Linked DNA regions of Homo sapiens. The protein of the gene in region 3 interacts with the protein of the main gene of each other region in a pairwise test. Each region holds a gene or a part of one and is shown on either strand. Other genes may lie near its edges.

Region 1 (7,971 bases), on a different chromosome or scaffold from region 3:
ATTCATGATAAACTGCTTCTAACAATGCATGCTATACCCAACAAAGAATGTATGCAGGGGACGGGGTGCTAAAGACATTCCTGGGGGCAGGGACAAGCGGAAATGAATTATATTCATGCCTATTGGATATTTTCTTTGGATTTTGTATGCTGTTTCGATTTTTATAATTTTTTTTCTTAAGGAAAAAAACACATATTTTTTTCTTAAGGAAATAGACACTGGCCAGGCGTGGTGGCTCACGCCTGTAATCCTAGCACTTTGGGAGGCCGAGGCAGGGGGATCACCTGAGGTCAGGAGTTCGAAACCAGCCTGGCCAACATGGTGAAACCCCATCTCAATTAAAAATAAGAAATAAGCCAGGCATGGTAGTGCATGCCTGTAATCCCAGTTACTTGGGAGGCTGAGGCAGGAAAATCGCTTGAACTGGGGAGGCGGGGAGGCGGAGGTTGCAGTAGGCCGAGATTACACTATTCCACTCCAGCCTGGGCGACAAAAGTGAAACTCTGTCTCAAAAAAAAAAAAATAGACACTGTTGTTGCAAGCCTATGGGTTGCCTGAGGGCAAGTATGGGCTCCAGGTAGGTCTTTTGAGGAAAGGATCTTGTTTTTATCTTTCATGTAAAAGTTACTTTATCTTTCTCAATACCTCAGTGGTTTTGAACCCAAGCCTCTGGGAAATGTCCCAACCTCCTGTCCTCACTCAGTGCACCATACTACCAGGCTTAGAGGAGGCTCTTTCTCCTTATGGAGGACCAAGGAAAGGTGTTGTCAAGGTCTGCCATTATCCCATCTTTCCTCCTTCTCCATAATAGGAATATTAATGCAGAAAGAAATAATTGAAAGAGGAGCGGCCAGGCGCAGTGGCTCATGCCTGTGATCCCAGCACTTTGGGAGGCCAAGGAGGGCGGATCACCTGAGGAGTTCGAGAACAGCCTGGCCAACATGGTGAAACCCCGTCTCTACTAAAAATACAAAAATTAGCCAGGCGTGGTGGCAGGCACCTGTAGTCCCAGCTACTTGGGAGGCTGAGGCAGGAGAATTGCTTGAACCCAGGAGGCAGAGGTTATAGTGAGCCAAGATCATGCCGTTGCACTCTAGCTTGGGGGACAAGAGCAAGATTTCATCTCGAAAAAAAAGAAAGAGGAGCTAGAATAAGAAAATAAAAGCTGGAGAGAATGTGGAGAAATAGGAACGCTTTTACACTGTTGGTGGGAGTGTAAATTAGTTCAACCATTGTGGAAGTCAGTGTGGTGATTCTTCAAGGATCTAGAACTAGAAATATCATTTGACTCAGCAATCCCATTACTGGGTATATACCCAAAGGATTATAAATCATGTTACTGTAAAGACATATGCACACGTATGTTTATTGTGGCACTATTCACAATAGCAAAGACTTGGAACCCACCCAAATGTCCATCAATGATAGACTGGATTAAGAAAATGTGGCACATATACACCATGGAATACTATGCAGCCATAAAGAAGGATGAGTTCATGTCCTTTGCAGGGACATGGATGAAGCTGGAAACCATCATTCTCAGCAAACTATCACAAGGACAGAAAACCAAACACCACATGTTCTCACTCATAGGTGGGAATTGAACAATGAGATCACTTGGATACAGGGAGGGGAACATCACACACTGGGGCATGTCGGGGGGTTGGGGGTTAGGGAAGGGATAGCATTAGGAGAAATACCTAATGTAAATGATGAGTTTATGGGTGCAGCAAACCAACATGGCACATGTATACCTATGTATCAAACCTGCACATTGTGCACATGTACCCTAGAACTTAAAGTATAATAATAAAAAAAATAAAAATAACATTCTACTCTCCAGATATAGCTATTGTTAACATTTTGAGAAAATATCCTTCCAGATAGTTTTTCTCTTTCTTTCTTTCTTCCTTTCCTTTCTTTTCCTTTTTTAATTTAGAGACAAAGTCTCATTATGAGTCTCCCAAAGTGCTGAGAATACAGGCATGAGCCACTGTGCCCGGCCTCCAGATAGTTTTTCTATGTATACAAATTATGCACTTTCTTATTTAGAAAAATGATTTATGTTATTACAACTGTTAATAATACCTTTTCTCTTTTCTTAAGTATATTGTGATTCTCTTACCACATCATGAAATGTTCTTCTACATCACCATTAAAAATTCTTTTTTTTTTTTTTTTGAGACAGTGTCTTTCAAAAGTGCAGTTCTGAATCAAGGCAGCCTTGAAGTCTTGTTATTATGGCAAGCCCTCCAGTGCCAGGAGAACTGAGGTAGGAGTAAACTCAGATCAGCCTTTGAAATAGAATGTGTGAGGCCAGGTGCAGTGGCTCATGCCTGTAGTCTCAGCACTTTGGGAGACTGAGGTGGGTAGATCACTTGAGATCAGGAATTTGAGACCAGCCTGGTCAACATGGCGAAACCTCATCTCTAGTAAAAATTAAAAAAATTAGCTGGGCGTGGTGGCAAGTGCCTGTAATCCCAGCTACTTGGGAACCTGGGAACTGTGGAGGTTGCAGTGGCCCGAGATGGCGCCACTGCAGCTATTACTCCAGTTTGAAAATACTAGAAGTTGCCAATATATATTTTTTCCATTGCCAGACTTGTCTGCAATTTGTACTGGATCTGATAGAGAAACCATTTCCATGGGTCTATATGAAAATGTGGAGCCGGGGGTAGTGGCTCACGCCTGTAATCCCACAACTTCGGGAGGCCGAGGCAGGCAGATCACCTGAGGTCAGGAGTTCGAGACCAGCCTGGCCAATGGGGTGAAATCCCGTCTCTACTAAAAATACACAATTTAGCCAGGTGTGGTGGCACGTACCTGTAATCCCAGTTACTTGGGAGGGTGAGGCAGGAGAATCCCTTGAACCCAGGAGGTGGAGGTTTCAGTGAGCCGAGATAGCGCCACTGCACTCCAGCCTGGGCAACAGAGCGAGACTCCATCTCAAAAAAAAAAAAAAAAAAAGAGAGAGAAAGAAAATGTGGGTGCGGGGAATGATTCTATGGTTGTCTGTTCTTTTCCAGCTGGCCAGCAGTGGTAGCCAAAAAGTGACAGGATGCTGATGAAAAACATTGCAGACGTGAAGAAAAGAAAAAGTTGATGGAATTTTGCACATGTATCTGACAGTTCACCCATCCAAACTTTTATAAAGTGCTGTAAAGTTGTTGTAGTAAGGGTGGGGCATGGTGGTTCATGCTTGTAATCCTAGCACTTTTGGAGGCCACACGCAGGAGAATCGCTTGAGCCCAGGAGTTCAAAACCAGCCTGGGCAATATAGTGAGACTTCATCTCTATAAAAAAGTTAAAAACCTAGTAGTGTATGGTGGTTTGTGCCTGTGGTCCCAGCTACTAGAGAGGCTGAGGTGGAAAGATAGTTTGATTCTGGTAAGTGGAGATTGCAGTGAGCCAAGATGGTGCCACTGTGCTCTAGCTTGGGAGACAGAGCAAGATTCAGTATCAAACCTCCTAGCTAGAGGATGCTAGCTAGGTGACGCTGAGTCAATAAGGAAGGATTTGGTTACATCTTGGGACCTAAGGTACAGAGATGAATGTCCCAGCTCAAGGCTGCCCCAGCCATTCAACTCCTTGCTTCCTCTCTTGGTGGACCTGTCAATTCTTGCAAGTGTCAACCAGCTGTCTTGCCCACCTAGCCCTATAGTCATACCTTTCTATCCTTTTGGTGATCTCCACTCCATCAAGAAGTGGCTCTGCACATTCTATTTCAACTGACTTTTTTTTTTTTTTTTTGAGACAGAGTTTTGCTCTATCACCCAGGCTGGAGTGCAGTGGTGCAATCTTGGCTCACTGCAACCTCCACCTCCCGGGTTCAAACGATTCTTCTGCCTCAGCCCCTCAAGTAGCTGGAATTATAGGCACGCATCACCACACCCAGTTAAGTTTTTTGTATTTTTACTAGTGATGGGATTTCGCTGTGTTGGCCAGGCTGGTGTCAAACTCCTGACCTCGGGTGATCCGCCTGCCTCAGCCTTCCGAAGTGCTAGGATTACAGGCATGAGCCACCGCACCCAGCCTGCACGTTCTATTTCAAAGGCTGATCTAAGGTAACTCCTACTTCAGATCTCCTGGCACTGGAGGGCTTGCCGTAATATCAAGTCCCCAAGGCTCCCTTGATTCAGAAATCACTGAGGCAGCAGCACCTTGTACAGATATTTCTCAGCCTTCACTGTGCGTAAGAATTGCTCAGGGCCCTTGTTTAAAAAAAAAAAAATCAGCGTCCTGGACTTGAAACCCAGTAAGTCTGGAGTGGGGTCTAGGAATCAACGTTTAACAAAAGCAGGCATTTTTGGCCAGGCACAGTAGCTCACACCTGTAATCCCAGCACTTTGGGAGGCTGAGGCGGGAGGATCACTTGAGCTCAGGAGTTTAACACCAGCCTGGGCAACTAGACCCCTGTCTTTACAAATAAAAATAATTAGCCAGTCCTGATGGTGCACACCTGTGGTCCCAGCTACTCAGGAGCCTGAGGTGGGACGAGCACTTGAGCCCAGGAGTTTGAGGCTGCAATGAGCTATGATCACAGCACTCCACTCCAACCTGGGTGACAGAGTGAGGCCAGTCTCAAAAAAAAAAAGCAGGCATTTTTGATACAATATTTGTATGTATCTGCTTAAGACAGTCGGTTTGCTTCCAAAGACTAAATCAAACTTCCACCAAACTCCTTTTGGCATAGACTGAGTCCAGAGCAAGGAGATCAGATGGGTTTACATAGACAATGTAACAGTCAGATTTACCTCTTCTCTTTCCCAGCCAGCATGGGACGATGTGGGGGTGTGGGGGGGTGGGGGGGGCGGGGGAGTGGCAATCTACCAAATATCTCTCTTCTTACAGGAACTCACAGAGGAAGACAGATTGGTCGAACAAACCAGTATTATGCAAACCTCATCCAAACCCTCTGATTTCCTTAACTTGGCTAAGAAAAAGAGGAAGTTCTCCGAGTTACTCACCACTGTGGTTCTACTATGCCTTCTGACCCCGTCTTGGACTTCAACTGGGAGAATGTGGAGCCATTTGAACAGGCTCCTCTTCTGGAGCATATTTTCTTCTGTCACTTGTAAGCCCCCCTTATCATTCTGAGGCTCGAACCTCCAAGCCAACGTGTCATGTGGAAAGTGAGCTTTATCGTGTTCCTTTTCTGTTTCAGGTAGAAAAGCTGTATTGGATTGTGAGGCAATGAAAACAAATGGTAAGTTTCATTTACTTCTTTCTTATTGAAACCATTTTCACTGAAGTGGTGAGACAGTCTGATTGCAACATAAGCGTCCATTCAAAAGTGTTTCTGAGCTTTTATGAACAACCAAAGAACAGTCTTTTCAATTATCTATCATTTAAAATAAAATGATTTTAGGGAGGGGATTGCAGCATTTTTTTCTGAGACTCAGTGAGAAAAATAATGAAATTTGTTTTCACAATGAAAGTTTTCTAACTTTCCTTGTTATTGTTGTTTTATGGTTGTTGTGTTTTAACTAGAAAGCCAACACACAGGCTGGGTGTGGTGCCTCCGGCCTGTAATCGCAGCACTTTGGAAGGCTAATGGGGTAGGATTGCTTGAGCTCAGGAGTTTGAGACCAGCCTGAACAACATAGTGATACCTCGTTTCTTAAAAAAATAAAACAAAATAAAAAAACCCACAGAATTATTGTGAAATAATTCAAGCAACACTAGAAATATACATTGGGAAGTGGTCTAACCTCTGGTTCTACTAGTTACTAGCCAGCAGCCTGAGCTCATGACATACCCAGTTTGACCTTAATTTCTTTCTTTCTTTCTTTCTTTCTTTTTTTTTTTGAGATGGAGTCTCAGTCTGTCGCCCAGGCTGGAGTCAGTGGTGCAATCTCGGCTCACTGCAACCTCTGCCTCCCAGGTTCAAGTGATTCTCCTGCCTCAGCCTCCCGAGTAGCTGGGACTACAGGCGTGTGCCACCAAGCCTGGCTAATGTTTTGTATTTTTTGTAGAGACGGGGTTTCACATCGTTAGCCAGGATGGTCTCGATCTCCTGACCTCGTGATCCGCCCACCTTGGCCTCCCAAAGTGCTGGGATTACAGGCGTGAGACACTGTAATTTATTTCATCTGTGAAGTGGGCTAATAAAAGCACCTACCTGGTAGGCTAGTGTGCAGATCAAATGAGACAATCCCTGCTCCTCGTCACAGTGCCAGGCATATGGTAAACCATCCGTAAGTGATAGCCAAGGTGGTGGTTGTTACTGTATAAAATGTAAAAGTTCTGTTACAATCCTCCTCCAATTCTTCTCCCCTTCCTATCCAGAAGCAGCCGTTATCAACAGTCACTTTATATTCGTTATCTTTTTTTGTTTGTTTGTTTTTGAGACAGAGTTTCACTCTTGTTGCCCAGGCTGGAGTACAGTGGCACAATCTCGGCTCACTGCAACCTCCGCCTCCTGGGTTCAAGGGATCCTCCTGCCTCAGCCTCCCGAGTAGCTGGGATTACAGGCACGTGCCACCATGCCTGGGTAATTTTTGTATTGTTTTTTGGTAGAGACGGGGTGTCATCATGTTGGCCAGGCTGTTCTTGAACTCTTGACCTCGTGATCCTCCTGCCTCTGCCTCCCAAAGTGCTGGGGTTACAGGCATGAGCTACCACACCAGCCTTAGCTCCTCTTTTTCAACAGCTGCATGGTATTTTAAGACTCAGCCATGATTCGTTTAACCATCCTTATTTATTGCCCTGCTTTTTGGGGGCAATATAAACAATGCTACAATAAACATCCTTGTACACAACGTCCTTTGTGGATGCATGAGAGCTTGAAAGCATCTCTGTAGAATGAAATTCTAGAATTGAAATTGCAAGGTCATAGGGCATACACATTTAAATTGTTACAGACCCTGCTAAGTTGCCCTCCCAACAAGGCTGATCGTATCCTATCAGTCACCAACGGTGGGTGAGTTTCCCCACCCACTCCCCAGTGGTGGATATAATCACTTTTACTTTTAAATTTTATTTAGGGTTTTTTTTTTTCTTTCTTTCTTTGAGACAGAGTCTCTGCTCTGTCGCCCAGGCTGGAGTGCAGTGGTGCGATCTTAGCTTTCCGCAGCCTCGACCTTCCAAGCTCAATTGATCCTCCCACCTCAGCCTCCTGAGTAGTGCCATACAGGTACGCACCATCATGCCCAGCTAATTTTTGTATTTTTAGTAGAGACAGGGTTTCACCATTTGCCCAGGCTGGTCTCGAACTCCTGGACTCAAGAGATCTGCCTGCCTCAGCCTCCCAAATTGCTGGGATTACAGGCATGAGCCACCATGCCTGGCCAATCATTTTTAAACTTTGTACCAATCTGATGAGTGAAAAATGATATCTCAGTGTTGTTTTAATTTGCAGTTGCCTCATTACTTGTGAAGTTGAGCATCTTTTTCATGTTTACTGGCCACAAAAGCTCTAGCATTCCTAGATAAAAAAAACTTAGGGATGGCTATTTGGTTGGAAAGGTAGTTTAGGTCTTGTCTTAAAGTTGAGTTTATATGGCGGGGCACAGTGACTCACACCTGTAATCCCGGCACTTTGGGAGGCTGAAGCAGGCAGTCACTTGAGGTCAGGAGTTCAAGACGAGCCTGGACAACATGGTGAAACCCTGTCTCTACCAAAACTACAAAAATTAGCTGGGCATGGTGGTGTGTGCCTATAGTTCAGCTACTCAGGAGGCTGAGGCAGGAGGATCAGTTGAGCCTGGAAGGTGGAGGCTGTGGTGAGTCAAGATGGTGCCACTGCGCTCCAGCCTGGGCAACAGAGTGAGACTCTGTCTCAAAAAAAAAAAAAAGTTGAGCTTATATAAGACTGAGAAAATGTTAATTGTCCAGATCAAAGAGTGGGAGGAGAGTTTACTGCATTTTTAAAAGCATTTTTGAAGAGTCTAAATCTGTCTTCCACCCAAGCCATCCATTGGTCCCAGCTATGTTTTTTTTTTTTTTTGTTCTGTTTTGTTTTTTAAAAAT
Region 2 (7,043 bases), on a different chromosome or scaffold from region 3:
TTTCTGTTCCACCCCTGAATTTGCAACTCAGAACATACTACTCTGACGGAATTCTTCATAATCTGACTACTCCTCACCTTTCTCTCCTCCCACCACACTAACAAGATTTCTAAGCTCTGACTCCATCAATTTCACCCTTTTCACTTATTATCTATAATAAATATGTATTATATTTATATAACATTTATATATTTATGTATTATAATAGTTATATGATTATATATATATATTTTTTCTGGGTCTTTTACAAAAGTGATTTAACTTTTTGAGTCTTTTTTTAAACTAAGTTTATTTTCCTTGTTGCCAAGTTGATATAACTACAGAGCTACTAGCTTTGCATGAATGTAATTAGATTAGGAATATAATTTGTCAATTTGGAAATAGAAATATTATCAAAGTTGGTCATAGTAACATTAATTTTGTGTAATTGACAGGATATTGTAGTGATTGCAGTTAAGGAATATAGAGTATGGGACAAAAAGAAAAGGTAAAAGGTTTTCACCTTCAGAAGGTGTTCTTGGTGATGTCTCTAATCTAGGTTAAATTAGATAGAAAGGATCTCATTTCTCGAAGGTGGTGTCTAGGACAGACCTGGATAGCCATGGAGAAGACATCCCACCTGAAACAGAAGTATTAAAGCAAGGAAGCTGCAAGTGTACATTTGCCTATCTCAGGTTTGTATCTTAATCTCTTATCACTTGGGAATTAGTGGTTTGAACTCTAAATGGTAAGCAGCAATGTGCAATGACAGACTCTAAGATTCCAAGATCGAGGACTAAGGAAAAACAAGCCCCCATTCGTTACTCAATTTTAAAATGAGCCTCTGAGGGGACATTTAACAGTATTTACAGAGAGAAAAAATCTGAATCTGCAGTTATTATAACAAGCTGCACCTGCTAACTGCATTCTAGTCTCCAACAGAAAAAGATGCAATACAGTACATTATCTCTGAGACCTGCTGGAAATGAATATCCAGAGAAAAGCAAGCTTCTAAGGGTGAAGCCTATGCTGAAGAAAGAGAAATATGCATTTTACTGAAGATGGTGCAGTAAAAGGGGCCTGCAAATATATACTGGAAACTTTAGTTGGGGCTAAATTAGAAGGATTTTGAACATATAAACACTACAACTGAATACCAAGGAAAGGTGTGTACATGTTATAAAGATAGTATTGTGTTAGAAAGGAGAACCTAAAGTTATAATAAGCCAGAATAGCAGGATTTTTCTGGTGGCATATGTTTATAGCCCCAGTTAAACGGAATGGACTTGGATCCTCATTTTCTTTTCTAGGAGAGTCAGGTCAGAGTCCTAGATAGGGAATACCTAATAGCTAGTCTCATCTGACAGAAGAATAAGGAGGAAGGAATTTCTCTTGAATAGGCAATTGGTCTTCCCAGAAATTAAGTCAGGAAGCAACTGGCTCTTGGATAGCCCCTGGGTCGCTGCTATGCAGATACTTGGAAAAGGGGTATTCATTCCTACTAGGCAGGGGAAAAGTTTGCATGCCTGCAGTCAGAAGTCAGTTAGACAGACATTCAAAGCCTCAAAGAGAATGCTGGTTATGTAACTCAGAACAAACTCTCCACTCCTAGGCAAGTCTCTGGGAATTTAGAGTTGACATGACAACCTCAGGAGGAAAAACACCTTGTTTAATGCTGTACTACGTGACCTACACCGGTCACTGACCAGAGCAAGGAGAAGCCACCCAGAATCACTGGTTAATGATCAAAATATTAAGCTATGGTCTATTTTAAGCACCTGGAGGAAAACTCAACACAGGAATTGGTTTCTTTCCCAGCTCAGGCCAACTGATAGAACATGCTGGTGGGCCACACGCCAAAAGTAGGCAGAGCCTTCATTCATGGATTTATTTAAGAGCCACCAAACTTTCAGGCTACTCAATATGATTATATAGGAAATCATTTGTCTTTTACATCTATATTCTGAAATAATAATATTTATTAAACACTTTCTACATACCAGGCACTTTGCTAAGCACTTTAATAAATTTCATTTAATCTTCACAGCAATACTAGTCTACCCCCATTTTACAGATTAGGAAACTGGCTCTGAGAAAAATATACAACTGGTTAATGATGAAGCAGGTAAATGCACCAAGGATTACTTGACTCTAGAGACTATGATCTTGACCACTACACTTTATTGCATCTTTTGATTAAAATATGCTTATAATGGGATATGACACCAATTTGCCATTCTGGACAGAAATTATTTCCTCCAAGTTTCTAGGAAATGGGAAGCTCAAGTTTGTTTTGTCAGGTACCAGTAACACAAAAAAACCTAAATTACCTGTTCATATTTTTTTCTATTATCCAAAGTCCCAAACAATAGAAACCCAATGAGAATTGAATCTTAACTTTTTGAATCTTGTTTTAGTTATTAAAAAATGACATAAACTTAATGATTCTTCCCTGAGACAGTGGAAATATCTAGGAGACTTCTAAGTTTCTTGTATTAGAATTCAAAGATCACGATTCTTCTGCTAGATAACCACTACTACGGTCCTTTTGTTTCCACCACAGAATGGAACGCAGTGCATCTTGGAGCAGCTAATAAAACTCTGTAGTGTAACTAGATGAACAATTACAAGTAAGAATACACTCTTAGAGATTTTTTTAAAGTTCGCAGATAATTTTCAAAACAAACATTGCTCATCCCTCTTTCACTGTCTTACCAGAATGTTAGGTATTTTCCTCATTTTTGCTAAGTTCTTTTATTTGAAATATATCAGCATGTTCCTTCAAGACAACCTTTTACTAAGTATTTGTTTGGTGCATATGCACAATACATAGTATATGCACTAAATCAATTTAAAAGATCAGTCACTAATTTTTTCCTAACGGGAAAATAAAGTGTCAACTAAAAACCACCCATATTTGATTTATTCATGCCCACTTTTAAGTTCTAGGTATAAACAACTTAGAAAGAAATCCTTACCTTACTTAGAAATTCATACCGTCTAGTCAAATGCTAAGTAGTCCATAAGAATAAACATTGAATTCAGCTATGAGTTTCTCAGAGAGTAAAGTCCAAGGTACGTTTGATTTGCTACCTATGACAGACCAAGGAAATCACATCATCACCAAGGACTCCCTCCTTCAAACTAAGCCCCACCCAGATCTGAGTCAGTACAGATCTGAAAAGTCCAGGAATTAGAAGATGCAGTTTCAGACAACATATTGAAACAGCTAAGCATTGAGCTGTGGGAGCAGTGGACTCTGGTTTCCATGCTATGGTGTCAGCTTCACCATCAACATGATACAGGCAACCTCCTGAGGTTGGACTGCCTGTGACCTGTCTAGCTTGCTGCAGAGTTGTAAAGAAAATTGTGTAGCTGGTTGCAGTGGGTGCCAATAGTTCTGTGAGAAAGAACCATAACCCTACACAAAGTTCATCTGCACCTACAATTCCCATTACAGTTCTGGTCGCTAGAACACCCAAGCTTAAACTCAACTTCAGAGAAATAAAGACCTCTCTGAATTCCACATGGAAAGTTGGGCAGTGCCCAGCCTCTATGCTGTCATATCATTTAATCTCTCTCTCCCTCAGTGTCACATGCATGGCATGCATGCACATACAACAGATGCTAAGAGTCATGCTTTACTCACTATTGTATCCCAAACAACTACCACTTACTTACTAGCACATAGTAGCTGGTCAATATCTGTTTGCTGAGTGCATGGGAGCAAAAGTTACAAAGTGAACAAAAATTACCTTAGGAGGACAATAAACAGGACCCTTCTGTCTGGAACAAAGGATGCCATCCAAGCCTTGGCACAGCACACAAATCCCCTGATCATATAATCATAGGGCCCTGTCTAGCTTTATAGCCTTTCGGCATTACTCACCACATCAACGTTAACCTCCTGCCACACATGCACACTCAGGGGAGAGGGCAAAGTACATTTGGGGAACTCCCCCTCCTCTTCCCCATCTCTTCCTTGACTTCCTTCTTCTCTAGTCAGAGTCATCCATAGTGAGCCTTCTGCTGCCCACTGGAAACTGGGTTGAAAGCGCCAGGGCTCTTCCTAGAATCCCCAAAGTCACCCACGCCAACGTTTTCTTTTTTGTTTGTTTTTGTTTTTCGTTTTTTTTTTTTTTTTTTTTTTTGAGACAGAGTCTCTTTCTGTCGCCCAGGCTGGAGTGCAGTGGCACGATCTCGGCTAACTGCAAGCTCTGTCTCCCAGGTTCACGCCATTCTCCTGCCTCAGCCTCCCGAGTAGCTGGGACTTTCAACCCAGTTTCCAGTGGGCAGCAGAAGGCTCACTATGGATGACTCTGACTAGAGAAGAAGGAAGTCAAGGAAGAGATGGGGAAGAGGAGGGGGAGTTCCCCAAATGTACCTTGCCCTCTCCCCTGAGTGTGCATGTGTGGCAGGAGGTTAAAGTTGATGTGGTCAGTAATGTCCAAAGGCTATAAAGCTAGACAGGGCCCTATGATTATATGATCAGGGGATTTGTGTGCTGTGCCAAAGGCGCCCGCCACCACGCCTGGCTAATTTTTTTGTATTTTTAGTAGAGATAGGGTTTTGCTGGGGTTCCTGGTTTAGCCAGGATGGTCTCAATCTCCTAACCTCGTGATCCGCCCGCCTCGGCCTCCCAAAGTGCTGGGATTACAGGTGTGAGCCACCGCGCCCGGCCGCCAACTTTTATCATTAATAAGATCTATTATGAAATGAAATCAAAATCAAACTGGGACTTAAAAGATGCAGGCAATCCCTGCTTTCACCTCTGAATCTCCATGGCCATGTAGTTAATGGTACATCACACCACTGTAATATTAGTTTAGGGAAATAGCAGAGCTCCTAAAGCATACACATGAGGAGAGCAGACTCTCACGGAATTTGAAAATAGAAGAATTACATATTTTTTGAAGATTTTTGAAGTTTTAGGAAGAAATGCCGTATGCATACAAACATACCTGTTATGCAGAGATTGTTCAAGCTGAAGGTAAAAATAGAATCACGGTTTTAAATAATATCAATGGCTGAGGAAGGAAAGAACAATTTCTCTGAGATTTATGTCACAGAGAAAGTGGCTATGATATGTATGCCATTATTGAAGACTAGATCAACAGTTTTAGGTTACAAACCTTTCCCTTGCAACATATTCTTCATTTCAGGAAGGGGTACCTGAAAGGAAGTAGGATGAACCATTAGGACCCTATATTAGGGGAACCTGTAGGGCCACTGCTTGCAAGAGCTCAACTGTTAGGCTTTGGGATCTGTTACCATTTCAACACCACTTTTGGTTCTCTTCTGCAAAGTGCCTCCACGATGTCTTCAAGTGACTGGGAGAAGAAACGGCATATGAAATATGGTTAATCCTGATTATATCTATGCACATGTACCTACACTAAGGCTCAGGGGAGAATTTAATGTTGGCATTGAACATTTATTAAGTTGGCAAATGTTCTGAGGAAGTAAAAAGTATAACTGTCATGTAACTTGAGGATGTGAGAGCAGCTACCGGTTGCATCCTCAGATCAAATAGGGCTGAAATTAGTCATCCAACTGGAGTCTTTCAGTTGTCGAAATACTGCAGAAGAAAGTGAATTTAAACTCTAAAGCTGAGAGGTGGACAGACATGGCTAAAATGTAGATCTTAAATTGGTCTGACAGGGAGATAAGGAATTACGGTCCTCATATATTAGGCATTTACTGAATCAGTTCAATCAATATTTATTTCCAGCAAAAAAGTCTCCTAATATTTCAGCTATTAAAAACCTTGAGGTGTTAAACTCACATATTCATTTTCCAAGATGCTAAGTGTGGTGCCTGTCATCATTTGTGCATGTCATGCCTTCCTGGCCCATTGTTGCTGTGAAAGGACATAAAGTAATTTAGGCCTAGGCATTAAAGTGGAATTGGAAGATCAAGAGAGGACTGCACTCATACCTGCTAAATGTTAAGCCACAGAAGGTTCCAACAGACTTGGATAACACCTTAAGTCAGAATCCACTGGACTTCAACATCTCTCAGCTGGGAGTACCCTAATTAACTAACAATTCAGAACAGCTCTGCAATTTAGGATTTCTGTCCAGCCAGTGAATTGCCCCTCAAAACAACTTTTTCAAGAAATCTCCTATTAAAAACCTGAACTTGCCTTAAAGGACACTATTTAGTGTTGCCCTAATTCAGTGTACCTGAATTGCAATTCTTTTTTTCCCAAATATACTCTACTTTCTTTGGCATCTGTGTTGATTTTTTTCTTAGTTAATGTAACAACAGAACTGCCACATCAGTGCAGGGACTTCCTGAGGCCTTCTAGATGCTCTCTGTGATCTATTCTTAGTTCTCTGTTTTCCTGGTATTGCTTCATATTCAGGTCTAGAATAGCATCAACCACCTTCAGTTTTGCAGTGAGTTAGCTTTTAAATTGCTTCAAAGTGCTTTCACAACTCTCTTAATGATCATTCTGGGAAACAGCCAGGGTAAGTGATCCTCCTGCTTCATTTAGGATGAAGAAACAGGTGCTAAGAGTGAACAAATGATACACCTAATGAATAAGTGTCAAAGTTGGGCATTACATTAAACATCTGCCATACTCCTCTCACATCCCCTTGGCTCACCTTTTTGTCCTGGACATTGTTGAGGCAACAGGCTCTACACAGGTGCCCTTACCAGCACTTCATCCCAGCTGTACTATGCGTCTGTCTTGCTTGTTATCCCAGGGATTCTCTGCTTTCTAGTGAGACTCCTAAAACAGAGAAAATAAAAACCCTCCAGTGTTAATTTTAGCCTATGGAGGTCAGGCTGTTCCCCTGTTTTCTCTCTGGTTGACAATCCTGAAGTGTCTTCTATGTGGTTCCTTAAAGCATCCCCACCAAGACTAAGCCCCAGTTACCCACAGGCATAGCCAGCTGAACAGCACACTCTTGGATTAGCTCTCCCTCCTTCCTGTTTTACTCTTCTCAAGGGCCCCTCCCCTGTTCCCTGGATTCACTTCCCAAAATAAAATACTTGCTTTTCTCTTGCAAATTTAAGTTCCTTATAGATGGTGGATATTAGACCTTTGTCAGATT
Region 3 (7,660 bases):
GTCCTTGCTGAAAACCAAAGTTGACGTCTTTCTAATGGCCCAGAGAAGAGTATGGGCCATAAAGTCTCCAGTTTGCGGCAATTCGTTAAGGTTTCCTTCAAGCACAATATTATATCAATATTTTATGGCTACTATAGAGGAATGTTACATTTCTGCCCATGGCGCACACAATTATTTGTACTTCCTTAGTTTTTTTTGAAAATCTGCTTGTTCTGCCAAGTTCTGAAAGACATGCTGTGACACTGAAACAAGATTTTGCAGTCTGTTTTCTGTAAATTTGTTCTTTAGCACGTTCACGTGTGACTTATATTTTCCATAGCATGTGCCTTTTACGCTTGTGTAGTAATTTTTTCCACTTTATTTTAGCACTGAAAGGTGGTTCGCCTAGTGCTTTGTCAACATGTCTTGCCTTCATTTTTTTTAAAAAAAATTCTTGGTACATGTATGTCCTCACCTCGCTTTTGAAACTTTCTTCATTGTCTTGCTTCAAGTGTGACAATTACATGTTTTCTGTGAGCCTCCCCTGCACAGCTCTTGGCTCTCTGGGGACAGGGCCTGATTTTCTTGCTCAGCATAGTACCCACTTGATCAGCACAGAGCCAGTCACACAGAACAGGCTCCACAGTTATGCATGTGAACGGTGAGCCCCATTTCCTTTCTTACTTGCTCATCTGTTTAACAATCATTTGAGTAATTTTCCTGGTGTAAATCACTCTTACTACCCTGTAAGGATTACACTGCTTCTTAGAGACCACAGACTATGGAGGCCCACTCCCTTCACCTTCTAAGTACCCACCCCCTTTGACTGGCAGTGTCTCTTGATTCATTCACATGTATCCATTTATGGTATATGGATATACCTGTGTGTGCTGTCTGCATGTGCATCAGAGGGAAGGTGAATTACATGTGTGAATTTCTAGATCAGTGGATACTTTTTCATTTTAGCACTAATTTTTTAGTTTAATTACATTTTATAAATCTTGCTGAAATGTATTTCACTCATGCATCTTTAAGAGTATTATTAAATGAGGCATGACTTTGCAGCCTGGTGTCTGACCAGCTTCTGACCTGGTGTAGCAGATGTTGAGGCCCTGCTCCTCACCACCCAACCCTGAGTCCCCCTGCAGTGGGATGGGCATTTCCCTGCCTGCTGACAGCTCCGTCCCTGGAGCCTGGCCTCTGCCTCTCTGCTGAGGGCTTCCTGCCACCCTTGGAACCTACTTAGCCCTGGCACAAGGCAGCTCAGAAGGTTTGCGATTTTAGCAGTCCTGGGCGGCACATCTCACCCAGTGGGGAAAGGAGACAGTAGATGTTGGAATGACTCTGAGCCACCATCTATAAAGTTCCTCCAAAGGTCCCAGTGGGACTGGGTCCCAGTTGCCACCGCAGCAACGCTCATTAGCGCACCCTCTATGGCTTTCCCCCTACTGGCTTCACTCTCTCCACTCCCTCACTTTGTTTCCCAGAATCACCTGCTCAACGAATCACTGGCAGGAAGGCCCTTGTCTTAGGTCAGGTTTGGGGACCCAGCGTATGCCAGCTGGGCTGCTATGGATGCTGCCTTCAGGGCTGTGTGGGGCTCTTGAGGCAAGGAAACATTTTTCAGGGTACCTCCATTTCTCCGGCCAGCCCTTGCTGCTGTCACCTCTCTTGCCTATAACATCTCCTTTCACTCCTTCCACTTCCTTCCCTTGAAAATAAGAAAGGAACAAGACTGTTGCTGCAACATGCCATGCACCCGTGCAGCTGTGTGCACTCTACATGCACAAGCTCATGCAGTCCTCACCACAGCCCCAGCAGGAATGTGATCGTATCTCCATGTCATCATAAGCAAACCAACACCTAAGGAAGCTGTGAACAATAAAGCTCACAAGAAAATGAAATAAGAGTTTTTAAAAATAAAATGTTTCTGTCTCCAAGATCATTTCCAGGATGTCCTGCTGCCTCACCCGGAAACAGAAGGGAAACAAAGAAGCTCGTCAGAAAATAAATGAAAACAAACTGAAACGAGAGCGTCTCCTGTTAGTAACACATATGGGTTTTTGTTTTAAGGAAACATGCTCTATGTTTTGATTGCCCTTATTTCTGTTTTCTTAGCTTCATTTAGCAAAAAAGATATAGGTGGACAGGTGGCAGGATGAACCTTCACAGACAGAAAGTGAACACAGTCAATCGAATCTTCTGTGGCTGGGTACTGACCATCTAGCCACCAGCATTCTACCCCAACCTCAAGCTTCCTCTGTGAATTGTATTCAGTCACTCAACATCCTATATACTAGGTTCTGTGTTAACAGTAACTGGAAGGAGAAAGAAGAGTGGATTTCTTCCCAGAATATGCCAGGTTTCAGCTAATTTCTCACCTCAAGACCTGTACACCTTCCTCCACCCTCGTGTCTCATACCACAGACATTTCTAACTCAGCATGTCTTTAGCTGGATACATTGTCTTTTCCCCAAAAATCCTAACTGTGTCTCTTCCCAGATGGACATCCATGTCAGCAACCTTGGTGCTCCAATAACCCTGCCTACACCACTCAGCCCATCTGGGAGAAACACTGAATTTATTCACCTTAACACGTTAGGTGTGTCCCCGTCAACGATCACGGTGCGTCTTCAACACCCGTGTTTCCATTATTTGGGGGCTACTATAATTGTTTCCACAGCGCCTGATCCTTCCCCAGGCTGAGGCTAGGAGAAGCCAAAGGAATGGAAACGACAAAGATGCCTTCATTCCATTATGCTGCAACCATTGTAGCTAAAGAACTCAAACTGTTAGTTAGTAAGGAGGAAACAAAGATGAGTCTTACCTGATCCCAGCTTGAGGAGACTCAGAACCAAACTGAGCATGAGAGCCATGGATGTGTTCTGTGAATGGACCTCACGGCATGGAAACGGATGACAGGAGAGGTGACGGATGGATTAGAGAGAAGAGGAGAACTGGCCTAATGCTCAAGGTGCGGAAGCCACGGAGAGGCTCTGCGTGAGCGGAGGGCAAACTGCGCTGTTCTGAGAGTCTACTCCATCGAGACACAGCTGTCATGTACCAGAAGTGTAGGGACTCTAGACTTTGAACCACTGCATAAATGTCTATATCTTATCAAGGAAGCAAAGATAGAAATAGTGTGGATAAGATTGGAGGTGAACTTTGTCCTGGGCAAAACGATGCCCTGTGTGGGTGAAACAGGAATGTCAGATGCGGAAATACTTTTCACGTCCAATCTGGCAGGCAGGGCTGTATGGCCATGGGATCTAGTCCTGAAAAACCTCATGTTAGCACTGGATAGTTTGGTGTCCAAGTAAATAGGCCATGCTCCATTAGTAGTAGCCTACAGCAGGTGACTTGACATTTCCTGGCACAGTCTGAGGTCCTTTTGCTTACCCCTCCATTCTCTGAAGTTCAGGGCCAGGACTGTAATCATGAGGCCAGATAAAAATAACTTTCCAGAACAAAACAGATCCTTAGTGTTAAACATCTGATACATTGGGAAAGGTGCCTGGGCAGGTTCAGACATGAGGAAACTTATTTATTATATAAACTAAGTTCCAGGGCAGCCACAATGAGAGATTTGCAGTCTTTTTAAGCACACGGAAACTCACAAAGTCACCACTTAACTAGATCAGAATGAAAATTTCCACAGATAACCATCAAAATAAACATACTCTAATCATAATGCAATTAAAATTAAAAAGTAATTCAAAAACATAGGAAACTCTATACACTAAGAAATTCTTATGTAACAATTTAAAACAACTCACGAGACTAAATCACAATAAAAGTTAGCATCTAGAATAGGACAAAATGAAAACACTGCATTTAGTCTAAAATCTAGAACACTGACAACACCAAATGCTGGTGAGGATGCGGAGCAACAGGAATTCTCACTGATTGCTGACAGGAATGCAAGACGGTACGGTTGTTCTAGAAGACAGTTCAGCAATTTCCTGCAAAATTAAACATACTTTTATCACCTAATCCAGCAACTGCACTGCTTTTTATTCACCTAAATGACTTGAAAACATATGTCCACATGAAAAATTGCACATGAATGTTTATAGCAGCTTTATTCATAATTGCCAAAAATGTTTGCAACCAGATATCATTCAATAATGATACATAGAATGTATACACAAACTATGGTACATCTATACAATGGAATATTACTCTGTGATAAAAAAAAAAAGGAAATGAGTTGTTGAATGTTGTAAGCAAGAGAGTAGAATAGAAAATTATTGATCTCATGCTGTCTCAGAAATACAGATTTACCAAGGATATATAGACCAAAATACCTTTTTATGAAGCTGCTGAGAAGGCACAGTATCCTCTCCATTCCAGTGGCAGCTATGCCCCACCCATGGCCATTCGAAGCCTAGGCCTAGGCCCAGTGGAACGGTCATGACCCAGGCTTCTGAACCTACAGGCTGCTCTGGCCCCCAAGGACCAAACAGTCCAACCCAGCAAGGAAGCCAAGCCTGGCCTGGTGAAGCAGTTGTACCCTCTCAAGCATGAGCCAAGCACCTTGACCCCAGAGAAGCATGCGCAATAGAATGGCAACAATACCCCCTTGTGTGCACACTAACTGGGGGCCCCAGACTCAGCCCCAGGAAAGCAATGTCTGAGATGGTGGAGCAGCTGTGCTCCCTTGGCACATAAAGCGGCCTGGTGCCCCACCTCCAGAAAAGCTATGCCCAAGCCAGAACACTGGTCTTATTCCCTCAGCACACAAACCAGCCCTGCATCCCACCCGAGGGAAGCTGTACCTGAGCTGGTGGAGTAGTTGTGCTCTCTTGGTGCCTGAGCTCAGTGTAATCTACTTTGCTACCACCACTCCCACAAATTACTGCAGTACGGGCCACTGAGGCATCCACTTGTCACTGACATTGATTATAGCTGAGAAGCTTCACAGAGACTACGCTACTGTGCCAGCCAGAAGCAGAGCCGATACACCCTACTCAGCACCCGAGGACCTATCAACAAGTGAAAGTTTTTTCTTAGAAAAGCTACTTTATAAGTTAGGAGAGGCAAATGTTCTACCAGATGCACATATATCAACACAGGGACACAAGAAACATGAAAAAGCAAAGAAACATGACTCTCCCCAAAAAGGCTGAGGCAGGAAAATCACTTGAATCTGAGAGGTGGAGGTTGCAGTGAGCCGAGATCGTGCCACTGCACTCCAGCCTGGTTGACAGAGTGAGACTCCATCTCAAAATAATAATAATAATAATAATAATAATAATAATAATATAACATTTTTAAAAGTCAGCAAGATTTGAACTAGAAATACCATTTGACCCAGCCATCCCATTCCTGGGCACATACCCAAAGGATTATAAAACATGCTGCTATAAAGACACATGCACACGTATGTTTATTGCGACACTATTCACAATAGCAAAGACTTGGAACCAACCCAAATGTCCAACAATGATAGACTGGATTAAGAAAATGTGGCACATATACACCATGGAATACTATGAAGCCATAAAAAATGATGAGTTCATGTCCTTTGTAGGGACATGGATGAAATTAGAAATCATCATTCTCAGTAAACTATCGCAAGGACAAAAAACCAAACACTGCATGTTCTCACTCATAGGTGGGAATCAAACAATGAGAACATGTGGACACAGGAAGGGGAACATCACACACCGGGGCCTGTTGTGGGGTGGGGGGAGGGGGGAGGGATAGCATTAGGAGATATACCTAATGTTAAATGACGAGTTACTGGGTGCAGCACACCAACATGGCACATGTATACATATGTAACAAACCTGCACGTTGTGCACATGTACCATAAAACTTAAAGTATAATTAAAAAAATAAAAAATAAATAAAAAATAAAAAGTCAGCAAGATTCAAGATAATATAGATAGACTATTGAAAGAAATCAGGAAAAAAAAATCATGGTATAAATTAGAAATTCAGCAAAGAAATAGACATCAAGAAAAATTAAACAGATGTCTTGCCATTAGATTATTCAATGAAGGAAATGAAAAAATACAATAGAGAGCTTCAATGGCAGACTAGATCAAGCTTAAGGACAAAAATAAAGTGAAAAGAAAGAATTTTTTCATGCAAACGGTAAAAAAAGAAAGCAGGGGTGACTATATTTATGTCAGATAAAGTAGGCCAGAAGTCAAAAACTGTTACAAGAGACTAAGATTGTCTTTAAGTAATAATAAGCAAATAAGTTAATCAGACTGTAACAATTATAAATATGCAACCAACATCAAGGTGTGTAAACATATAAAGCAAATATTAGTGGACATGAGGAAAACATAGCAAAACAAAAATACTGGGGAATTTCAATACCCCTTTATTATTATTATTATTATATTTTAAGTTCTGGGATACATGTGCAGGAAGTGCAGGTTTAGGTATATATGTGCCATGGTGGTTTGCTGCACCCATCAAACTATCATCAACATTATGTAATTCTCCTAATGCTACCCCTCCCTCCCCTAGCTCCCTACCCTCCGACAGGCCCTGGTGTGTGATGTTCCCCTCCCTGTGTCCATGTGTTCTCATTGTTCAACTCCCACTTATGAGTGAGAACATGCACTGTTTGGTTTTCTGTTCTTGTGTTAGTTTGCTGAGAATGATGGTGTCCAGCTTCACCCATGTCTCTGCAAAGGACATGAACTCATCCTTTTTTATGGCTGCATAGTATTCCATAGTATATATGTGCCACATTTTCTTTATCCAGCCTATCATTGATGGGCATTTGGGTTGGTTCCAAGTCTTTGCTATTGTGAACAGTGTCACAATAAACATATGTGTACATGTGTCTTTATAGTAGAATGATTTGTAATCCTTTGGGTATATACAGTAATGGGATTGCTGAGTCAAATGGTGTTTCTTGTTCTAGATCCTTGAGGAATCGCCACACTGTCTTCCACAATGGTTGAACTAATTTACACTCCTACCAACAGGCTAAAAGCATTCCTATTTCTTCACATCCTCTCCAGCATCTGTCATTTCCTGACTTTTTAATGATCACCATTCTCACTGGCACAAGATGGTATCTCATTGTGGTTTTGATTTACATTTCTCTAATGACCAGTGATAATGAGCTTTTTTTCATGTTTGTTGGCCATATAAATGTGTTCTTTTGAGAGGTGTCTGTTCATATCCTTCACCCACTTTTTGATCAGATTTTTTTTTCTTGTAGATTTGTTTAACTTCTTTGTAGATTCTGGATATTAGCCCTTTGTCAGATGGATAGATTGCAAAAATGTTCTCGCATTCTGTAGGTTACCTGTGCACTCTGATGATCATTTCTTTTGCTGTGCAGAAGCTCTTTAGTTTAACTAGATCCCATTTGTCTATTTTGGCTTTTGTTGCCATTGCTTTTGGTGTTTTAGTCATGAAGTCTTTGCCCATGCCTATGTCCTGAATAGTATTACCTAGGTTTTCTTTTAGGGTTTTTATGGTTTTAGGTTTTATGTTTAAGTCTTTAATCCATCTTGAGTTAATTTTTGTAATAAGGTATAAGGAAGGAATCCAGTTTCAGTTTTCTGCATATGGCCAGCCAATTTTCTAACACCATTTATTAAATAGGGAATCCTTTCCCCACTGCTTGTTTTTCAACAGGTTTGTCAAAGATCACATGATTGTAGATGTGTGGTGTTATTTCTGAGGACTTGTTCTGTTCCGTTGG
Region 4 (7,920 bases), on a different chromosome or scaffold from region 3:
ATATAAAACCCTCAGGACATGAGAGGGAGACGTGGTCCTCACATCCTGATGTGCAAACATTACGCTCAGGGAAAATGCAAGGTGCCCCAGGTTTGTGGACTTTGCATCTTTCTAGGTAACTTATTTATTCACTTTTTAATTTCAACAAATGATTATTAAATTTTACTCAATACATAAATATTTACTGAGCACCATTTGTGTGCATGAGAAGTGGGAGCTAGCATGGCAAAAGCCAGGCACTGTGCCAGGTGAGAGAGACCCAGAAATTAAAACCAGAGAAGTCATTAATAAGAGTCTAAATATCTGGGCCCAGGCTCATGCCTGTAATCCCAGCACTTTGGGAGGCTGAAGGAGGTGAATCACTTGAGGTCAGGAGTTCAAGACCAGCCTGACCAAAATGGTGAAGCCCCATCTCTACTAAAAATACAAAAAATTAGGCGGGCATTGTGGCACACGTCTGTAATCCCAGCTACTTGGGAGGCTGAGGCAGGAGAATCACTTGAACCCAGGAGGCAGAGGTTGTAGTGAGCCAAGATCGCACCATTGCACTCCAGCCTGAGTGACAGAGCAAGACTCCATCTCAAAAAAAAAAAAAAAAGAGTCTAAGGATCTGATGGAGGAGAAAGGCAAGAACATGTGCGAGACAACGCAAGGCCATCGTCCCAGGGTGCCCAGGGTAACCACGGGGGTAGGGCACTCCCCGGAGAGGCCAATGACAAGCAGGTTGAACAAAGCAGGGGGGCTCCCTGCAGGAGGAGGTTCACCAGGTGAAGATGGAGCCGCATGGGCAAAGGCCATTCCAGAGACCCAGGTGTGTTCAGGAGGTGGAAACCCATTGCAGGTAAGGTGAGAGGACCGGGTGGGGTGGTCTAGGAGGAGCCGACAGAGGGTACAAGCTGTGAAACAGCTTGAAGCAGGGCAGTGAGGAAAGGGATCTAGAGGAGGAAGACACGTGGACAGATGGGGCTGGCTGGGGGCTGCCGCAGGATCTTATGCAAGAGGTTCTAACACCAGAGCTTCAGGCTCTGAGCTCCGCGGAATCAAAGGTCTCAGAAAGCAACCTATTAGGATCTGGTGGTTGACAGCCTGCAGCAGGGGGTGAAAGAGGAGCCCAGAGCACCCTCCGGTCCCTGTCCCTGCCTTGGGGCATAGGAGGGGAGGAACTCAGTCTGGCCACACTGGCTCAGGTGAGGGCGCCCCAGGGGAGGCCGAGAGGGGCTGTTCTCTTGTCTGCTTTGCTATCAGGGACTGCCTCGAGATGTCTTTGGAGAAAGTGTTCCTGGCTTGCTGGGAAGGATCCGTGTTCAGCTCCCGCTGCCCAGCAGCTTCCATGGGAACCTTGCCCTCCTGGGGTCTGGATCCATCGCGACGTGAAGGTGATCATCGCCCACCCCCGGGACACTGTGGGGGTCAAGAGAGGCCCCGTGGTGAGGGAGGATCATCATCCTGGGGGTCGGGGGGGTTTCCTCCTCAGGGAGGAAGATTTCCAGCCCCGGTGCTCTGCCTCCGGCAGACTCTGTCTTGCCCACCCGCTTTGTCTTTGTCGCATGATGGAAATAAATGGAAATGGTTTCCACACACGAATGCACTAAACTGTAATCACAATTTTCTAGATTTCAGTTGTAACAGGATCATGGACCTGAGTGACCCGCAAAGACGCTCTGAGCCTTGAGCCAGAGGGTGTGTGGGGTGGGGAGGGGAGTTTGCCACGGCCTCTGTGATCCCACAGCACAGGGGGCAGAGCTGGGGGCTGGGGTGGGGGCAAGGGCGCAGGCAGATGGGCCTGGGGGTGGCCAGCACGGGGACCCACCCAGTTCGTTCTGTACACCGAGGCCACTTCCTCTCTCGGGTTCCAAAGCTCCCCCGCTCCCTGCCATGGGCTTGGGGGTCTTCCCACTGCAGCCCAATGCTGGCTGCTCTTCTACGCTGCCCAAGCCCACCCCTCAGGCCCGGTACCCCACAGCAGAGATCAAGAGGTGGCTGGAGGGCAGTGGGGGCACGGACAGCACCACTGGGCGCTCCCTCTTCAGGCCTCTCTGGAAACCCTTGCTTTGGAAACGTAGAAAGCCCTTTCTCCTGCCCCCACCTTGAAACTGTACCTAATAACGGCAAATAAGTTATTCAGCTCCCCACAGCTGGCAAAGTGCAAGTCGCAGATGCTGCCACACAGCATTTCCTGACAGCCCTAGGGCAGACCGTTGATCCATTCTGCAGGTAAAGGAGTTGAGATGCAAACACTTCCCAAGGAAGCAAGAATGGCCTCCTCCTCCACTCCCTAGAAGGACCCAGGGCAACCGATCCACTTGACAACACCAGGGAATATGGGTTGCCAGCCACGCACTCATGAGAGAGGTGGCTTTGACTCCCAGAGCATGGATCCCAGGGGAGCCCAGGAACCTGTAGGAGAGGGTCTCCCAGTTGGCCACCACTGGGACGGGCATTCGGGCCTGTGGGAGAGGGTCTCCCAGGTGGCCATCACTGGGACCGGCATTTGGGCCTATCTGGATGGGCCTTGGGAGGGTCTGCCCCTGGGGGAGATGTTGGCATGAACAGTCAAAAGCACTATTCTGAGACCCCACGCCAACACTTCCTCTTTGAAACATGACACTTGGGAGGATTGTATAGTCTTCCTAACACAGGAAAACAGCCCCGACTGAAGGCAGCCCCCTCCTCGTCGCACTTCTCGAAGGTCTCCGGGGGCCCTGCCACCCTGAGTTACTCTCCACCTGCTTTTGCCGATCCTGTAAATTGGATATACTTTTAAGGGCCTAGAACAGCACCTGGCACAAAACAGGTGCTCAAAAATATGTATGTAAAACAGTGGCTCCTGGCGGAGGCTGCCAGAGCTGGCTGTGGCCCCACAGAGCAGGAAGAAGCACGCCTTACCTGTCTGGGCCTCGGCCAGGGTGCCGAGGGCCAGCATGGACACCAGGACCAGGGCGCAGATCACCTTGTTCTCCATGGTGGCCATTGCCTCCTCTCTGCTCCAAAGGCGACCCCGAGTCAGGGATGAGAGGCCGCCCGAGCCCCGGATTTTATAGGGCAGGCTCTGTTTGCTTAAAGAGCGTTAGATAACATTTGCCTAAGGAGGCCCGGGGATCCTCTGAGACAATAATCTCCACTGATTTTTATCAAAGGTGTTTCCTAGACATGGTCAAGCTACATGGAAGGATTTGCTGATAGACAGAGACGACATGTGGTGAGGTCATCTTGGCTGAGGGATCTGAGATTCAGAAAGTCCCTCTTTCCCATGGGAGTCTCCTCCAACCTGACCTTAATCCAGGTCCTACTCATATCTGAGAGGCCCTCCCGCCAGGGTAAATACTGTACTCACTGCAGAAGTGATTCATAGTGAGAGATGGCCGGAAAAAGGCTTGGCCGTGACAACAGTGGCTCACGGGGTGGCCACCGTGACCTTGCAGGGGGAAGGGAAGGAGCTCATGAAGCCCATTCCGTCTAGGCCTAAGCTAATTCTTTTACAGTGGAATTGTTTTAATAATGAAATTGTAGGCCTGGCGCAGTGGCTCACGCCTGTAATCCCAACACTTTGGGAGGCCAAAGCAGGCGGATCACTTAAAGTCAGGAGTTTGAGACTAGCCTGGCCAACATGGCGAAACCCCGTCTCTACAAAAAAAAAAAATACAAAAATTAGCCAGGCATGGTGGCGGGTGCCTGTAATCCTAGCTACTCTGGAGGTTAAGTCAGGAGAATCACTTGAACCTGGGAGGCGGAGGTTGCAGTGAGTCGAGATCACCCTACTGCACTCCAGCCTGAGCGACAGATTAAGTCTCCTTCTGGGAGGGGCTGGGGGCAGGAGGGAGAAAAAAATAGTATATACGAGCTGCCATCAAAAACTGACAAAGTGAACGTGGTTCACTCCCCTGTGTCTATGGGGCTCCCTCCCTCCCCCTCCCACACCTTCCCAGTTGGTCCCCTGGACTCCTGTATTTTAGAGGACAGCCTCCTGCTCTCCTGTACCATGCCTCACTCCCCTCCCCTGCTCGGAGCTTTCTCTTTCATAGCTCTTATTACCTCCTGGTGGATAAAACAAGTGACTGACACATTATGTTGGTTATTTATTCATTGCACTCCTCCCTGCAGCAGACGGGAGGGCGCATGGGAGCAGAAGTCCTCATCTCCTAGTGCCTTGAGGTGGCCCCAGACCCTAGAACAGTGGCTTTGATTGGCATTCGAGAAACAGCTGTTGAAGAGCTGCATGAAGAAATGGACAACAGGAGAAATCTTTTCTTCTTCAGTGAGAAATTAGGCCCTGAGGAAAATGCATGCTAGCCTAACAAAGGTACTATCTTTTCTTGGGTGACCTAGTCAGTACATTTCTGCAGCCCCTCTGGGAGGGGAGCCTGGGCCAGAATGGGGGCGGCCATGTTCCTCTTCGCTCCATCCCAGGACCCAGCCCCTCCTCCAGGGCTGCCACTCCTGCACCGGGGTCTCCACTCCTGGGCCAGGGTCTCCAGGAGGGGCCTGACCGCAGGACCCAGGGAGGGGCCGAGGCCTGGTGTCCTCTGTGGTCAGCTTAAGTTTATTGAAAACAGGACGGGGGCACCAGGCCCAGGGTGGTGCTCATAGTGACGGTGGTTTTCGCTGCTCTAATTTCTCGGATCAAAATGGGGGCTCTTGGAAATGGGATGTAAATTGCACAATCATTTGGAGAAAAGGTGGGCAGTGTTCGGTGAGGTTTAAGCCATACAGATTTTACAGCTCAGCAAATTCTTCTGTTTCCAGGCCTGGTCTCTTAATCCCAGAAACATGTTCATACTTGGGCAGAAGAAAACACAGGCAAAGATATTCTTTTTAGCATTGTTTGTAACAGCTGGAAACAGGGAAAGAAGGAAGGAAGGAAAGGAGGGAAAGAAAAGCAAAATAAATATTCATTAACCAGGGAAAGGGAAAATGAACTTAAAATACAATGCAGTCGTCCCTTAGTACCCCTGGGGGACTGGTTTCAGGACCCCCCACCCAGGGATGCCAAAATCCACAAATGCTCAAGTCCCTGGTATAAAATGACATAGTGCGCAGAAACCACGTGCATCCTCTCCTACACTTTAACCATCTCTAGGTTAGTTATAATACCTGATGCAATACCTACACCTCATTTCATTCTGCAGATTCTACATAGTACTTGACTTGCGGCACACCCAAGTTTTGATCTTTAAGATGTTGTAAATAAGATTTTAAAATACTTTTTTTTTTTGAGACAGAGTCTTGCTCTGTCGCCCAGGCTGGAGTGCGGTGGCATGATCTCAGCTTACTGCAACCTCCACCTCCCAGGTTTAAGTGATTCTCCTGCCTCAGCCTCCTGAGTAGCTGGGATTACAGGCATGTGCCACCACGCCCAGCTAATTTTTGTGTTTTTAGTAGAGACAGGGCTTCACCATGTTGGCCAGGCTGGTCTCGAACTCCTGACCTCAGGTGATGCACCCGCCTCAGCCTCCCAAAGTGCTGGGATTACAAGTGTGAGCCACTGTGCCCAGCTGGATTTTAAAACAGTTTTGATCTGACATTACTGGAATCCATGGATGTAGAACCCATGAATATAGAGAACTAATTGCATACATGTATTATACTTTACATATATTATATATGTATGTATGTGAGTATCTTTCAGAAGATGAAAATGAATAAATAATGAGAAATATTGAAAACAAAGCGAAGTGAAAAAATCCGTTAAAATGGTTTGTAAAGTAGGATATCATTTATAATGTAGATTTCCAAACTATGTGAAACAATGTGATATACTGTTGGAACTGCATCCAGATGAACAAAATGATGACAGTGTAGACAGGAACGAGACACTGACTTCAGCATGATGGGTCTGTCTAGGAAGGAGGAAGCAGGAAAAGGTGGCGGGGTAGGGCGCAAAGGGGCCTTCGATGTCTCCGTAATGTTTTCTTTTGTTGAAGAAAATCTGAGGGAAATAAGGTAAAAAGGTTAGCATCCATTAATGAGGGGCAGCGTAGATTCACGGATGTTGTTCTAGCATTCTGTACATGTTTGCAATTGCTTTCTTGGAAAGCCCAGCTCCTATCTCCTTGGGAGAGCTGTGAGATAACTACCAAGTGCCGGAGTTTGGCCTCCCACATTAGGGTTGGAGCGGCTGGAGCTGCCCCCGGGACTCTCCGTTTCTCGGGACAAGAGCTTTATCCCTGTGAGAGTGGGCGGAACCCAAGACCACACCATACATAACCTTATCCATAAAAACTTGTTGAAGACAATTCCAGTGTGGCGAGGGAGAGAATGCAGAGGCAAGCGCCAGTCCATCATCAGTGGGGGACCCTGTGCCAGCATTTTCACAGCTCTGGGTCTTAGTTTTCTTATCTGAAAGACGCAGTGGCTGGGCCACAGGACATCTGAAGACTCCGCACCTCAGACCCTCTCCGGCAGGCATCTATGGCCGTGGGGGCGTCTGTGGCTGTGCAGGCATTGCTTGTTTCCTGCGCCCAGCCGACCTCCCTGCGGTCTGGCGAGAGCCCCTCATTTTCAGTGGGGGGCCCCGCAGCCGCCCAGATTCCCCACAAGGGGGACGCGCAGTTGGGGAGTCAGTCTCCTCCTGACGCTCCCCACCTGCCCGCTGCCCCTGACCTGTGCCTTGGCAGGAGGGGGTTCTGTAGGTGGCCCTGGAGGGAGGGAGGAGTTTGGGAGGAAGTGGATCCGGGCTCTCCTCCAGGATCCCTCCTGGGATCACCTGGGACAGGCCACGTCCCCCTCTCAGCCACAGCCCAGGTGGGCGTCCTCTCCACACACCATCTTCCCCAGGCCCCAGAGCAGACCCCTCACCCCCCTGCCCCAGCCTGGGGGGTTTACCAGCCGCAAGGAGACTTTTACAGTCTTCACTCTCCTCGCATTGCCCAGATCCGCTGTGGTGAAGCCCGTTTCCTGCCAGGCCTCTGGTCAAAAAAGCAACTGCCACCCCAGGGACCCTTTACAAGGACACCCAGCTGAGGCCCTGGGGTTGGGGTCCTCAGGTATTGGAGGAGGCAGGTACTTTCCTGGCCAGGGAACTTGAGGCACAGACCCACAGCATGGAGCGGGACCACATTCCTCAAATTAACCCAGAAGGAGAGGGGAATGATTGGAGTGTGAGGCCAGGCTCCTCCAGGGAGAGTGGCTGAGGCGCTATGCTTCCATGGTGACAGTAGGGCGGTAACCTCGTCAGGTTAGCCAGCTTCTTCCAGAGCCACACACACCCAGAAAGGGAAGAGGAGATCCAGGACTGAGCATGGACGCAGGACGATCAGAAAGGCGTCCTTGGTGGTACACCCTCCAGACACCATCCACTCCCTCCGGACACCGCTCACACCCTCCAGCCACCGCCAACTCCTTCTGGCCACCAATCACACCCTCCGGTCACTGCTCAGTCCCTCCAGTCAGGGATCACTCCCTCCAACGACCACTCACACCCTCCAGCCACTGCTCACACACTACAGCCACCACTCCAACCCTCCGTTCAGGTCTTACATCCTGTGGCCACTGCTCATTCCCTCCAGTCACCACCCACACCCTCCAGCCACTGCCCACACCCTCCAGCCACCGCTCAAACCCTCCGTCCAGGTCCCATATCTGATCACTGCTCACTCCCTCCGGCCACAGCCCACACCCTTCAGCCACCACTCACACCCTCTGGCCACCACTCACTCCCTCAAGCCACCGCTTACTCCCTCTGACCACCCCTCACACCATCTGGCCATTGCTCACACCTTCCTGCCACTGGCCACTCCCTCCAGCCAGAGCTCACTCCCTCCGGCCACACCCTTCGGGTGCCACTCAAAACCTCCGGCCATGGCTCACACCGTCCAGCCACCGCTCATACCATCCAGTCACCACTTATGCTCTCTGGCCACCGTGCACTCCCTCTGACCACCACTCACACTCTCCGGCCACTGCTCACACACTACTGCCACC

What was found.
Region 1: the proteins of BTNL8 (region 3) and MILR1 interact in binary tests that used the Homo sapiens proteins (3 or more experiments, as listed by UniProt).
Region 2: the proteins of BTNL8 (region 3) and HHLA2 interact in binary tests that used the Homo sapiens proteins (3 or more experiments, as listed by UniProt).
Region 4: the proteins of BTNL8 (region 3) and TFF1 interact in binary tests that used the Homo sapiens proteins (3 or more experiments, as listed by UniProt).

The regions. Positions count from the first base shown.
Region 1 is NC_000017.11:64,444,150-64,452,120, forward strand, and holds the start of MILR1 (allergin-1 isoform Allergin-1L precursor), read left to right. Parts: upstream 1-4,965; 5' UTR 4,966-5,019; coding exon 5,020-5,074; intron 5,075-5,164; coding exon 5,165-5,206; intron 5,207-7,971. UniProt on the Homo sapiens protein: Immunoglobulin-like receptor which plays an inhibitory role in degranulation of mast cells. Negatively regulates IgE-mediated mast cell activation and suppresses the type I immediate hypersensitivity reaction.
Region 2 is NC_000003.12:108,292,514-108,299,556, reverse strand, and holds the start of HHLA2 (HERV-H LTR-associating protein 2 isoform a precursor), read right to left. Parts: upstream 3,010-7,043; 5' UTR 2,958-3,009; exon of another isoform or gene 503-2,957; intron 1-502. UniProt on the Homo sapiens protein: Through interaction with TMIGD2, costimulates T-cells in the context of TCR-mediated activation. Enhances T-cell proliferation and cytokine production via an AKT-dependent signaling cascade.
Region 3 is NC_000005.10:180,894,506-180,902,165, reverse strand, and holds the start of BTNL8 (butyrophilin-like protein 8 isoform 2 precursor), read right to left. Parts: upstream 3,008-7,660; 5' UTR 2,856-3,007; coding exon 2,807-2,855; intron 1-2,806.
Region 4 is NC_000021.9:42,363,525-42,371,444, forward strand, and holds the start of TFF1 (trefoil factor 1 precursor), read right to left. Parts: upstream 3,012-7,920; 5' UTR 2,972-3,011; coding exon 2,887-2,971; intron 1,589-2,886; exon of another isoform or gene 1-1,588. UniProt on the Homo sapiens protein: Stabilizer of the mucous gel overlying the gastrointestinal mucosa that provides a physical barrier against various noxious agents. May inhibit the growth of calcium oxalate crystals in urine.